Regions from separate parts of the Homo sapiens genome. Here all the other regions are linked to region 1. The links come from fine-mapping of genetic effects on gene expression. A gene starts in region 1. Each other region holds a variant in brackets. All regions are shown on one strand. Distances are from middle to middle.

Evidence for each region. PIP is the estimated chance that this variant, and not a neighbour inherited with it, causes the effect. A credible set is the group of variants that fine-mapping cannot tell apart.
Region 2: its variant is the best candidate, but not a certain one, in a credible set for the expression of COLCA1 in esophagus mucosa (GTEx, PIP 0.51).
Region 3: its variant is the best candidate, but not a certain one, in a credible set for the expression of COLCA1 in esophagus mucosa (GTEx, PIP 0.57).

Annotation. Positions count from the first base shown.
Region 1 is chr11:111,303,107-111,307,349 of GRCh38, reverse strand. COLCA1 (colorectal cancer associated 1) reads left to right here and starts at 2,302. Exons shown (of 2, transcript NR_169237.1): 1 at 2,302-2,522. It overlaps POU2AF3 (POU class 2 homeobox associating factor 3), which reads right to left. Exons shown (of 5, transcript NM_001271458.2): 3 at 2,368-2,422; 4 at 727-956.
Region 2 is chr11:111,816,089-111,820,331 of GRCh38, reverse strand. All of the region lies in intron 13 of ALG9 (ALG9 alpha-1,2-mannosyltransferase), which reads left to right. Among named protein-coding and RNA genes, the nearest start is that of PPP2R1B, 52 kb to the right of the region's middle. The variant T/C (reference allele first, on the strand shown) is at 2,059.
Region 3 is chr11:111,389,417-111,393,659 of GRCh38, reverse strand. It overlaps a transcript of BTG4 not described here. Among named protein-coding and RNA genes, the nearest start is that of POU2AF1, 12 kb to the right of the region's middle. The variant T/C (reference allele first, on the strand shown) is at 2,390.

The sequences.
Region 1 (4,243 bases):
CCTTAAAAAAGAAAACTTTACAATTTAAGGTTTACAAAACAAACCTGTGAGTCTCTAAAAGACAACTGAAATAACTAGTTTCCACTAATAGAAACCTTACTTCATTTTGAAGGATAACACATTTTCAAACATTTGAGATCCACCGAGAACAACCAATTTAATTTTTTTCAAAGATTACGGCTTCATTTTTACTAACCATCTCAGACCCAAATGAGTTATTGTGCTTATAGCAGACTCAAACTATCAGTTAGTAGAGCCAGTTCAATGACAAAACAAAGCAAAACCTCCCCCTAATGAAATGAAGTTTGTTACCATATATACACAGCCTTAATTCCATTTCCAAGAACTCAAAATTCCATCAAAAAATCCAAGAGCCATTGTTTAAACCACTGACTTCCAATTAGTAGGTCTCTTGACTTTACAGTTTAAAAAACATTAAATGAATATTGCCAGGAACCTCTTTTTATTGCTACCCACCAACTTACTTGGTGGCCGAAAAATCTAAATCTTGGGAAATCTAAATTACGTGTGTATCCAAAGGTTTATGCCCTGCAGTGTGTGGCTACTTCTATACATTGACTTTTAAATTCTTCTCTGCTTGTTTCCTTGGATGATTTCCTTGCTGATAGTTTTTGTATGATTTCCCACGGGATGGTGCAAACTCACAAAGCACTATTACCCCATAGTTAGACACAATCAGGTATATAAAGAACTGAGAAAAATTACCAGGCTCTGGTTAAAGCAGAAAGGGGTGGCCTGGAAGCTGTCTGGGAAATGGTGTGGAGCACTTTGTGTGGAATTGAGCAAAGGCTCCGGGTGCATCTCTGTCTGAAGGTAGGAATCAAAGATCTGGTCGAGGCAGCTTGAGTTTTCTTCACATGAAACACAACTGGAAAATTCTCCCCGTTGCAAATAATTGGGCGTGGAAGAAATTGGTTCAGGCTCAAAATACAGTCCTAGAGGAGAAAGGAAAAAGGCAGGTTTTTGCATAAAAATTGCAAAACACAGATTTGAATGGAGATCTATACTCTGAATATTTACTATGTCTAGGGGGAAAGGGGGCTTAACAAATCCAGAAAAGTAAACGGGAATGCAATTTTGACTCTTTAGTTGTCCTAGCTAATTCAAGCTCCAGGGAAATGAACATGGTTAATAATGTGGAAACTGGCTGTAAAACTGGTTAGGGCAAAAATAAAAGGATGGTGACCCAATTTGTGTCCAAGTGTCACAGTCAAATAATGGCTCAAACTTCCCCTTTCTTGGGCTGTAAAACCATGGACATCCAGCCCCTACCGGCAGTTCACGTAAACCTCTCAGAAGTAACTGACAAAGTTGTTGAGGCTTTGAGAAAACTTCTGATGCTACGGGAAATAATTCTTTTGACTTATGGTGATTGCTTTTTTGAACTTTTCACTCTTACTCAGTAACTTAAGTTTGGAGGAGAGAATTTTGAGAAGTGATTTAAATGAGAATGCAAATGATAATCATGGAAACCAGGAACATAGAGTACCAATTAACACTATTGGCTCGGAAGTACAAAAAGCAAAAATGTTTTCTCAGTGAACATGTTAACATCATGATGTGATCAAAGTAAGTTGTTAAACATCAAACAAAGATAATCAGTAAACATTACTCCTTTTCCATTTTATTATTAATAGGCCCAATTTGTGATAATTATCTGTAAATGCTGGAAGAAGAGAGGATTAGAGTGTGCTCATCAAAGGGACTAAAGGACACTGTGTTCTTCTTGAGGTCTCAAGTTCCTTTAAGGTGAAGCTACGGTGACACATTTAGTGGGGAGAGGCCATAGGCAGAGGTTTCCTTATATACGACCTCCTTAAACTCTTAGCTGTTGAGTAGCAGAGGTAGGAGTGTTTATGTAATCGAGTTATTCTTATTGGGCTGAGAAAACCTACACTTGTTTGAACTGCTTTCTGGGAACAGAGAAGGGGAGGGAAGCCCCTGTCGGCTGGAAACTAAAGGAACAGAGCAAAGGCATTATTTGAGTGTCTTGGGATGTTCTGTATTCCATCTAACAGTGCACTAAAAAAAGATAAGTTCCTGAGAACAATTCTGATTTTGTAGTTCAGTTTAGTTACTTGGCGATGAGGAACTGGAATAAATGTGAAGAACAAACTCTTGAGACAATATAGCAGAGAGTAGAGAATTCAGAAATGAAGACAACATTTATGCTTGTTTTCTTGCTGGGCTTGCATGTGGAGTGACTATGCCTTTTTCACCTTCTGATTGGTTGGATTCCAATTAAATGGTGGTGCCTATCTTAACCCCTGAATCAAGACTGAAAGACTTTTGAGATGGACTTTTGAAAGAGTGTTTGAGGGAACTGTTAATGCTGGCTGTACTGACCTGCAGAAGATGGTGCAACTGGGTCTGAAAGGTGGACACTGCTGCCTCCGGACCGCTGTCAAAGCAAGAATATCACCGTGAAGCAGGCTGAAAGAAATGCTCTGAAGGGAAAGCTAAGACATTTTGATGAGGACTATGTTTCTTTCTGCTATAAGGTAAGCCAGATTCTTCCTTCTCAGAAAAAGTTGCTTTCTTTTTTTTTTTCAATGTTTGACAAATTTTTGTACAAAATATATTGTAAAAAACAAGTGAAAGGGAAAGTGTCAACAAATATTTTATAGAATTTGAAAGACAGGTGCATAGAATTGCGGTAGGTGTATTAAGTCCGTGTAGAATTTAAAATGCCTTTTGACGTTTATAATCCTTTTAAGATTCAATCTGGAAAATTGCATTGGAACAATGAAAACCTGAAATCGAATCATAAAACAGACTTCTTAAATACAACCAATATTATGTTTTATCTAGATCCAATATTTATGTTTGCTTGCTTGGGGAGTTTTTTTCCTAATATCAGATTCTTCTACTTAAATTTTAAAAGTGATTAATTTTTAGTAAAAAATTAATGTAAATAATTTTATGTGGTAAAAATGTAACAGTTTGAGAAAATGCAGCAAAAGGCTTCCTATTAAACTATTCGATTTAAAATTATTAAGGACTAACATTTATTTAATCTCAACTATCTATGGCTTAGTCAATTATTTTTCTCAAAAATTTCATATACCATCTGGCTACTTAGCCTTAGGGAGTCGTTTCCCCAAAGAACACAATTCTTAATTTTGTTAATTCTGAGTAGCTAAAAATATTCACATGTTCTTAGTATACATGAAATATTAAAATAGAAAATATTTTCTTAAAGCTGTGGTTGGTGAGTTGGAACCTACTTTCATTCTAGTTAATGGTCGGGAATTATTCCAGTACTTTGTATGTTTTGTACTACTATCTATAAAAGTTGCTTTTATTTAAACTACTGTATTTAAATACTTAAAAGTTTATGAGACTGCTCTTTTTAACTATTCAAAGTAAAGCAGCCTGCATTTTTCAGTTGAATTAATAATTATACTGAGTAATTTAGGATTTTTTTTTTTTTTTTAAATTTCAGGTGTGGCTTTAAAGTTTAAAGGTACCCGTATTGCTCTGTGATTCTGTGCTGGGAAGCCGAGCTCACCACACCTCTTTTGGGTTACAGGGCATACTCACTCCCATACTCTGAGCCACAGGGAGAGCTGTGCAGGCAGCCACTGCTGAAACAGGAGGCAGTATTAATTTTGAAAACGATCCATGCTGTAATGTCATGAACCAGGAAGCTGGAATCCTTTACCAGCTCTTTATGCAAATATTTGGCTGCAGCTTGAGCTGAAGGACTTGGAAGGAGTGGGTATTAAAAAATCTGCCTCATTGTAGAGCTTTCCTTAACTCCATTCCTCCCCCGGATTGGCCTGTTTGTCTGCCTCCACCCCATGTTATCTCCCTGAGGTGTGTTTACAATATCCTACTTGATATTATCTTTCTAGTCATGGGTTCACTTTCTACTTTGCTCCAAGAATACAAAGAAAGGCAACTCTCTCTTAGATTTCAAACAGCACAAAAATTCACAGTCTACAATTTATAAAAACACATCAAGGCTGTTTAAAAAATTAATGATTTAAAAAAAGAAAGGTAAATGATATCTTTTGATAACGACTAACTCAAGTTTCCTTTTACCCCAAAGGCAAGTGTGTGTGTGTCTGTGTGTGTGCGTGCATGCGCATGTTTGCAAATTGATCTGGCTGAAATAAGTTTTTTAAAATCGAGTGTTCCAATCCGGCATACACACAGTTTCTTCCGGCACTGCTTGAAGAATATTTGAATTCTTTACTGAATGTCTGTCTCAACCTAT
Region 2 (4,243 bases), 510 kb before region 1:
TTTGTACTCATCAGCCTCCAGAACTGTAAGGAAGTAAATTTCTTTTCTTTATAAATTATCCTGTCTCAGATATTCTGTTATAGCAACACAGATTGGACTAAGACAGTTGCTCTTAAGTGTGATTCTTCTGTTTATTTCCTTTGGATTCTGTAATCCCTTTCCCAATAGCAGGAATGCAGTCATGGATCTGAATAGAGTCATATATTTTGATGGCACAGTGAGAAGGCCCTTACCAGACACCAGCACCTTGATTTTGTTTAGTAGATTTATTACGATATGATGTGATCTTTATTGTATGGTATTATGGAGGAAATAGATTGTCCTCCAGGGGCTAGAAGCTAAGGGAAGAAATTCTTGGCACTTACAAATAAGCTGGTCATAGTTTTGAACAGCGTGGTGTTGGAAGTTGTCCAGCATCCTGGTGTGGCTGGTCACCATTCTTTCCTTCCGCAAATACTTTTTGACTGCCTGAGATATGCCAGGTACTGTACCAGGCACCAGGTGTATTGTGCTTATAAAGACAGATTCAGTTCTTGCCTTCACAGAGCTTACAAGGTTCAGCTATAAGAAGGCTTGGGCCTTGCTGCAGTTGCTCACAGAGGGATTTGAGGAGATGTGATGAATCAGAATTTATTATGTGTTTGGAAGGAAGACATTCTGAATGCTGCTTAAAAGCTAAGTATTAAATTAATAACATATGTCAGCCATTGTGGCTGCTGGATAGTCTCAGTTATGACCAAATTTTACTTAGCTGTGGGCAAACTGTCTAAACAGTTTTTTCAGCTTTAATCCTCCCACTTGCCTAGGAGTTTACAGGGCAGTTGATTTAGATTGATCTTTCACATTATCCCCTTGGACTCTTAGAGGATTCATGATGACAGTTGTTTACCAGAGGATTTTCAGTGACATATGAGAAATAAGATCTGTCTTCTGTGTGGAGATGGTTTCTCTGTGATGTTCCCTGAACCTCATGTTGGCCCTTGCCAGAGATCTCTATTTTTACAGCTACTTGCGTCATTGTCATTTCCAGCTGATAGATGATTGAATGCAACTTCACATCCTTCCTGTCTTAGGACTTGTGGGGCTTTGGCTCAGGCAGCTGGATAGACAGCAGAGAAGGTCACTGAGAATAGGAGGTTGGACTATTAGTTCTTTCCTTGTCCCCACATGGCATTCTAAACTGTGATAAAATTATTTGATACAACCATTGAACCCATTCCTCCTGTTGCCTTTTCTCAGTCTTCAGATCCCCATAGTGTTTCTGTAGCATTTGAAATCTACTCTTCACCCAGATTTTCAAAACTGTGTACTTCTTTGATTCTTCTATGTCCTGTCTTCTGGTTCCCTTCATCCTTGGCTGCTTCCACTTCTTTCTTCTGCCCAGTGCTACGGGCATCTTCTCAGCTTTATCTGTGGTCTTTGGCCCTCTCTGTTTGTTTTTTGTCTCTCTTCTGCTCTTTTACCTTTTCTTCCCTCCTTCACTTCCTCTCCCTTTTTTTCATGCATTCTTCATGTATTTGTTAAGTAGACATTTACTTAGGACCTACTGTATGTTTTGTACTGTGCTAGGTTTTTGGCATAGAAGAATGAATGAGATAGACACAGCCCCAGATTTTATGGAGCTTACAATGAATTTCCCAATTAATTAATAGAATATAATTGTAAAATGTTTTGAGAAGTACTGGTTGCTATAAGAGCATGTAATTTAGGCCCTGTCCTAGTTTAAGAGGTCAGTGAAGTCTTTCTTAAGGAAATCATTTTTAGCTGAAATCTGAAGGATGAGTAGGAATTTATGAGGGGACAACAGGGAATGTTCCACGAGTAGGAACAGAAAACAGTTCTCTAACTCAGTATTTTAGTCATATTGGTCTTCTTTCAGTTACAGTTGTGTGCTGCTCAGTGACACTTTGATCTAGGGCAGACTGCATGTTTGATGGTGGTCCCACAAGATTATTATGGCTACACCATACAGCCTAGGTGTGTCATAGGCTATACTGTCTAGCTCTGTGTAAATACACTCTATGATGTTCACATAATGATGAAATCATCTAAGACACA[T/C]TTCTCAAAACCTGTCTCCCTCGTTAAGTGACGCATGACTGTACTTGAGTACCCCATGCTTCTTCCCACCTCATTAGGTGTAAGACACAAGTTATCATCTTTCCTCAATGTCACCCAAACCTATTCTTTACTGCAGCCTTAGTTCACTGAATTAGAAATCTTGGTGTCACTGGTTTCATTTGAAATAGAAGTGAGGGCCAGGTGTGGTGGCTCACGCCTGAAATCCCAGCACTTTGGGAGGCCGAAGTGGGCGGATCACCTGAGGTCAGGAGTTTGAGACCAGCCTGATCAACATGGTGAAATCCCGTCTCTATTAAAAATATAAAAATTAGCCAGCCGTGGTGGCGGGCCCCTGTAATCCCAGCTACTCAGGAGGCTGAGGCAGGGGAGAATCGCTTGAACCTGCGAGGTGGAGGTTGCAGTGAGCCGAGACCGCACCACTGCACTCCAGCCTGGGCGACAGAGCAAAATCTGTCTCAAAAAAAAAAAAAAAAAAGAAATACAAGTGAGATTTGTCCTTTCTTCTTTCTTCATTCCCACTGCCATAGAAATATCAGAAGGTGATGTAGAGGCAGGTGGATCACTTAAGCCCAGGAGTTCGAGACCAGCCTGGGCAACATGGTGAAACCCTGACTCTACAAAATACAAAAAAAATTAGCCAGGCGTGGTGGTGTGCACCTGTTGTCCCAGCTACTTAGGAGGCTGAGGTAGTAGGATCACTTGAGCCTGGGGAGGTCGAGACTGCAGTGAGTTTTGTTTTTTATTTTTTTTTGAGTCAGAGTCTCGCTCTGTCTCCCAGCCTGGAGTGCAGTGGCGTGATCTTGGCTCACAGACTGCAGTGAGTTGTGATTTGCACTACTACACTCCAGCCCGGGTGACTGAGTGAGTCCCTGTCTAGAAAGAAAGAAATATCAGAAGGCATTATCACTTCACAACTGAATATTACAGTAGTAACTAGAGTGCTTACTTCAGCTTTTTCCTCCAACACTTTCTTGCCTCATCCTCCGCAGCATAGCTAGTATAGGCCTCTCTTTCTAAGACCCTGTTTTTTATCATCTTACTCCTTGGCTGAAAAACCTAGAATAGATTCCTGATGCATAAAATCCAGATTCTCTTCCTTTGGATCCTCCATTATCAGTCCTCAGACTGTCTCACTCTCGTTTTGTTTCTCAACAAACACCTTTTGGGACAGGTAGATATTCTTCCTCTTCCCCCTGTCAACCATGCTCCTTTATGTCTTTTTCCCTCTGTTTTCTCTTTAACTTTTATTACCAACTTTAGGAAGTCTTTTCAACTACTGTAGCCTCCAGTGATCTCATCCTCTCTGAACTCTGAATTTTTAATAACACTTTCTGCATTTCATATATGCTAATGTCATTTCCTTACCTAAATTATAAGTTTAAGAATGACTTGGGGCTGGGTGTGGTTGCTCATGCCTGTAACCCAGAACTTTTGGAGGCCAAGGCGGGAGGAATCACTGGAGACCAGGAATTCAAGACTGACCTCGAAAAGTTAGTGAAACCTTGTCTCTATTTTAAAAAATTTAAAAATTAGCCAGGCATGGTGGCACATGCCTGTGGTCCCAGCTACTTGGGAAGCTGAGCTGGGAAGATCACTTGAGCTTGAGAGGTTGAGGCTGCAGTGAGTTATGATCACATCATTGCACTCCAGCTTGGGCAACAGATTGAGACCCTGTCTCCAAAAGAAAGAAAGAAAGAATGGCCAGCTGGACATGGTGGCTCATGCCTGTTATCCTAGCACTTTGGGAAGCTGAGGTAGGAAGATTGCTTGAGGCCGTAAGTTCAAGACCAGCCTAGGCAGCATAGCAAGACCCCCGTCTCTACAAAAAATAAAAATAAATTAACTAGGCCTGGTGGCGCATGCCCGTAGTGCCAACTACTTGGGAAGATCACTTGAACCCAGGAGGTTGAGGCTGCAGTGAGCAAAAGAAAAGAACAAGGACATGTTATGACTTATATGTAATTTTATATACTCTAGGATTCACCAAATAGATACTTAATAAATGCTTTGAGGATGCCTAGAAGATTCCTTTTTTGCTTTTTGATCTGCAATTTTATTGCCTGTCAGGACAAATTGTATCACCCTTCAAATACATTCAACAAATTCAATACTCAAAAGTGTAAAATCATAGTGCCCAACAACTAATCAAAACTACTAAATTGTG
Region 3 (4,243 bases), 86 kb before region 1:
CAACACTCTGGTTTTGCTTTAGTAACTGGGGAGTTTTTCCTCCTGGCTTTTCTCTGCAACCTCTTCCCAGCTGTTCCCAACCCTGAGAGTGGCTAAAGAGGAAATCATGATGGTGCATCCTGTATTTGGGACTAGAGTAGTAGATTTCAAAGTATACAGTTCTTTGGGCAACCAGCATCCTGGAGACCTGAACTCAGCTACCACCGGTCTTCAGTGTGTCCTTCTCAGGCACCCGTGGGTTCTGTGCACCATAGTCAGGTGCTGCTGCTGCTGCCTGAGGGTGTGGAGGGCTGCAAGGAACAGGTGTTTCAATGCTGCCCTTTGCTTTGGATGCTCTAATCTGTCCAAGCTGACATCACAGCCTCTGAGAGGTGAGTGCATATGACCGTCTAGATTAGATAAAGTGACTCATCGTAATTTACAAACTGTGATTTAGTAATCCGGTTCCTTGACTCAGAGTAATAAGAGATCCATGATAACAGTGGATTTGGAGGAAACTTGGGGGAGATCCAGATAGCATCAGCCCACAGTGCTATCCCTCCTAGCAATCTTTGCACTCATTGTTGATGTGTATTGTATGTTCATGAATCTAGGTGACGATATGGTATAATCTGTCATCACTCTGTGGCATATTCTCACTCCTCTCTGTAGTTCAGGCAGTACCATAAGACTCCCCTCAGGGCCCAGGCTCAAGCCTATCCGTGATTGCAAGAATGGCTATCCCTTTTGGGTGCTTACTATTTGCCAGGCACTGTTGTACTGTTTTACACACATCCAATAATCTAACCCTCACAAGAATTCTATAATGTACATACCCAGAGGAGACAAGGTTGGTGGCGGCAGGATCAAACCCAGGCACTTGACTCGCAGGTCTGGGCTCTTAGCTAGCAAACTATGTTACCACTGTGCAGGCTGGAATGTCTATTCTCCCAAAAACTCAGAGCCAAGCAGTGAGGGATGAAGGAGCCAGGTGAGGCCCTGCTTTCTGAGCAAGATAGCTAGGTGTTATAGAAGAGAACTAGATAAGGCTGTGGTTCTCACATGTGATCCCTGGACCGGCAGCCTCAGCATCACCTCGGAATTTGTTAGAAATGCAAGTCCTCTGGCCCTGTCCTGGACCTACCAAATCAGAAACCCTGGGAATGGTGATTTGGATGCATGACAAAGTTTGAAAATCACTAGAGGCCAGCCACGGTGGCTCATGCCTGTAATCCTAGCATTTTGGGAGGCCGAGGCGGGCTGATCACAAGGTCAGGAGATCAAGACCATCCTGGCTAATACGGTGAAACCCCATCTCTACTAAGAATGCAAAAAATTAGCTGGGCATGGTGGTGGGTGCCTGTAGTCCCAGCTACTTGGGAGGCTGAGGCAGGAGAATGGCATGAACCCGGGAGGCAGAGCTTGCAGTGAGCCGAGATCGTGCCGCTGCACTCTAGCCTGGGTGACAGAGCAAGACTCCGTCTCAAAAAAAAAAAAAAAAAAAAAAAAAAGAAAATCACAGGAAAAGGGAAGCTGGAGGCTAGGTTCTAGGTCTATCTTTGCCCTTGCCTAGCTAGGTAACCATAGGCAGGTAATTTCATCTCTCTGGTCCTATTTCCTCATTTTAAAAATGAAGGGCTCACTCTAGATTTATTCACTTTTCATTAATCCAGCAAACATTTATTGAGTGCTTACTGTGTGACTGATTCCGAGAATGCAGAGACACGAAGCTTTCAGAATGGAACGCAATGAGAGCCAGGTGGCTTGGGATCATCTGTGGTTACCACTCCAGTTTCAACCGTAGTTAATTCTTGCTGAAACAATTGTTAGAAAGACTCTCTCTAACCTCCCACCCTTTCTCCTAACTCTAATTTATCTTCACACTGTTGCCAAAGCCACTTTTAAAAGAAGCGTGACTATGACCCCGTCACTCCTCAGTGAAAAACCTTCCATGGCTCCCTATTGCCCATACTTTCCCAAAGGAACACAAATGGAACACAATTGGAAACACATTTCCAAGGATCACAAGCAGCTTGGAACACAGTTCCAAGGACCAGAGAGATGGAACACAATTCCAAGCTGCTTGTGATCCTTGGAAATGTGAGAGGCCTCAGGCATAACTCCGCCTGTGCCGCCCAGGCCTGTAGGATGGCGAGGAGGAAGAAGTCCCGGCCAGCAGAGGTTCTAGGTTCTGCGTAACCTGAGTCCAGTGGCTAAAAAAAGAAAAGACTAGGATTCTCATGTAACATTTGGCAAAACTCTACACTTCCTTGAGCCTCACGTGACATTTCTCCTAGATAAACCTGGCTAAATTCCTGCCTGTATTTCAAAACCTACAAAAAATTTGGAGCGACAGAAAATGGGTGTGTTGGCTCAAGACTCAAGACTCTGAACAGTATGAGTTTGGAGT[T/C]TGTCGCAGCAACTGGGGCCATTGTCTTCAAAAACCAGCATCCTGAATAGGGTCCCTGGGGCTTGATGACTGCCGTTAACATAGTTGGGCTGGAGAACTTGCTCTCCAACTTCAGATGCAGCCACTGATGTCTATATGGTTGTCTACCCCTGAAAAAGAGTAAAGGAACTGTTATCAATTAATCAATGAGACTTTATCGAGCACATACTCTATTACTGTTTTTATGCCAAATTTGCTGGTTACGAAAGAAACCTAAGGTGCTTCCTTGCACCAGAAGTCTGCCAAATTTTCTGCAATCCAGGGCTTGGCATCATTTAATAAATTGGGCCATCCAAACTCCATCGGAGGTGGGTCTGAGTCAGCTTAGCAATCTGCCTGGAACTTTGCTTTGGAGTCTGTGCATCTGCCTGTGAAGTCTGCCTCAACTGGTGCAAAATGGTTGCCTTGTTTTGGGAAGATAAATGGTCTGAGTTGCATCATGAGATGTTCAAGTGGGACTGGAAGGCTTCGAAGAAAGAGGGAGAGTCAAGATGCTCAGAGTCCTGTTGGACTCTTAAAAAACCTTCTGTCTCTGTCGCAGAGTGGAAAGCCCACCAGAGCCTTAGTGCCCACTTCCTGTGGTGTGACTGAGCTTAGGGCTCCCTGAGCTCAGTTCTTACTTTGTTATTGTGAGGGCATTGGCTGGTGTTCAACTGATATTTCTTGAATTTGTTGCATGTAGAATATCTAGGTTGGATGCCATTGATAGTTTTTATCTTTATCCCTTAGCTGGGTTTTTAGAAATGCTTTTCTGAATGTGCCCAAGATGTTGATTTTGAAAGATACTTTATGACCCACTGCTTTCTTTGTTCTGATGGGAAGATATTTGTTCTGGCTGCCTCTCCTCTACCTCTCCCCACTTCCACTGGAATGTAAGCTCTAAGAAGTCAGGAGACTTACTTTCCTTGTTCACTGTTCCATCCTTAATGCCAAATACAGACTGGATGACAGTGGGATGACATTCAGCAAATATTTGCTGAATGAATGAGTGCATGAATGAATGAATGGATGGATGGATGAATGATCAGCTGTTTGGGACTTAACTTTCTTGTGTGTGTGCATGTTGTGGGGAATAATGTGATGTGGTGATTATAAGCTATGGAGTCAGATTGCCCAGATTATAATCCTGGCTCTTCTACTTATAAACTGTGCATTTTAGCCAAGTTTCTTAACCTCACTGTGTTTCCTCATATGTAAAATGAGGCTAATACTTCAAAGCATTGTTATGCAGATTAAATGAACTAATATGTGTAAAGTATTTAGAACAGTTCCTCGCTATATGATCAGTGCTCCAGAAGTCTTAGCTTTCGTTGGCTTTGTGAGCTGGAAGGCACACATGGAACTCCTGGAGTTGTTTTATCTCCTTCTGCCTCCCTCCACTTTTGTTTTTTTATGGTGTGATTGTGTCTAGTTGTGGGACACATTAATTAAGAGAGTTTTTTTAAAAGAAAAACGTACTCATGCCGATCAGTTTATATTTATTGTGCACCTGTTACATTTATTATACCTTTTTCTAAAAGAAAATTAGTATTTTCTCCCACAGATAGTGATAGCAACACTGGGTTCAAGTCAAAATCTGTCACATTCATTATTAATGAAAAAGTAGTAATAACAGAACTAGCTACCATTTATAGAGTCTTTTCTATATTCTGGGCATTGTGCACTTTGGTGGACCACGGATCATGGATACCCAGGTATTGACTGAATGTCAGACTTTGTCTCTGGGTTCACTGAGGCCAGGCTTAGCTTACTTTGTTCATTAGTCTCACTCTAGTGTTACTATGGCCAACAAATGCCTCAGGTAGAGTTAATCCT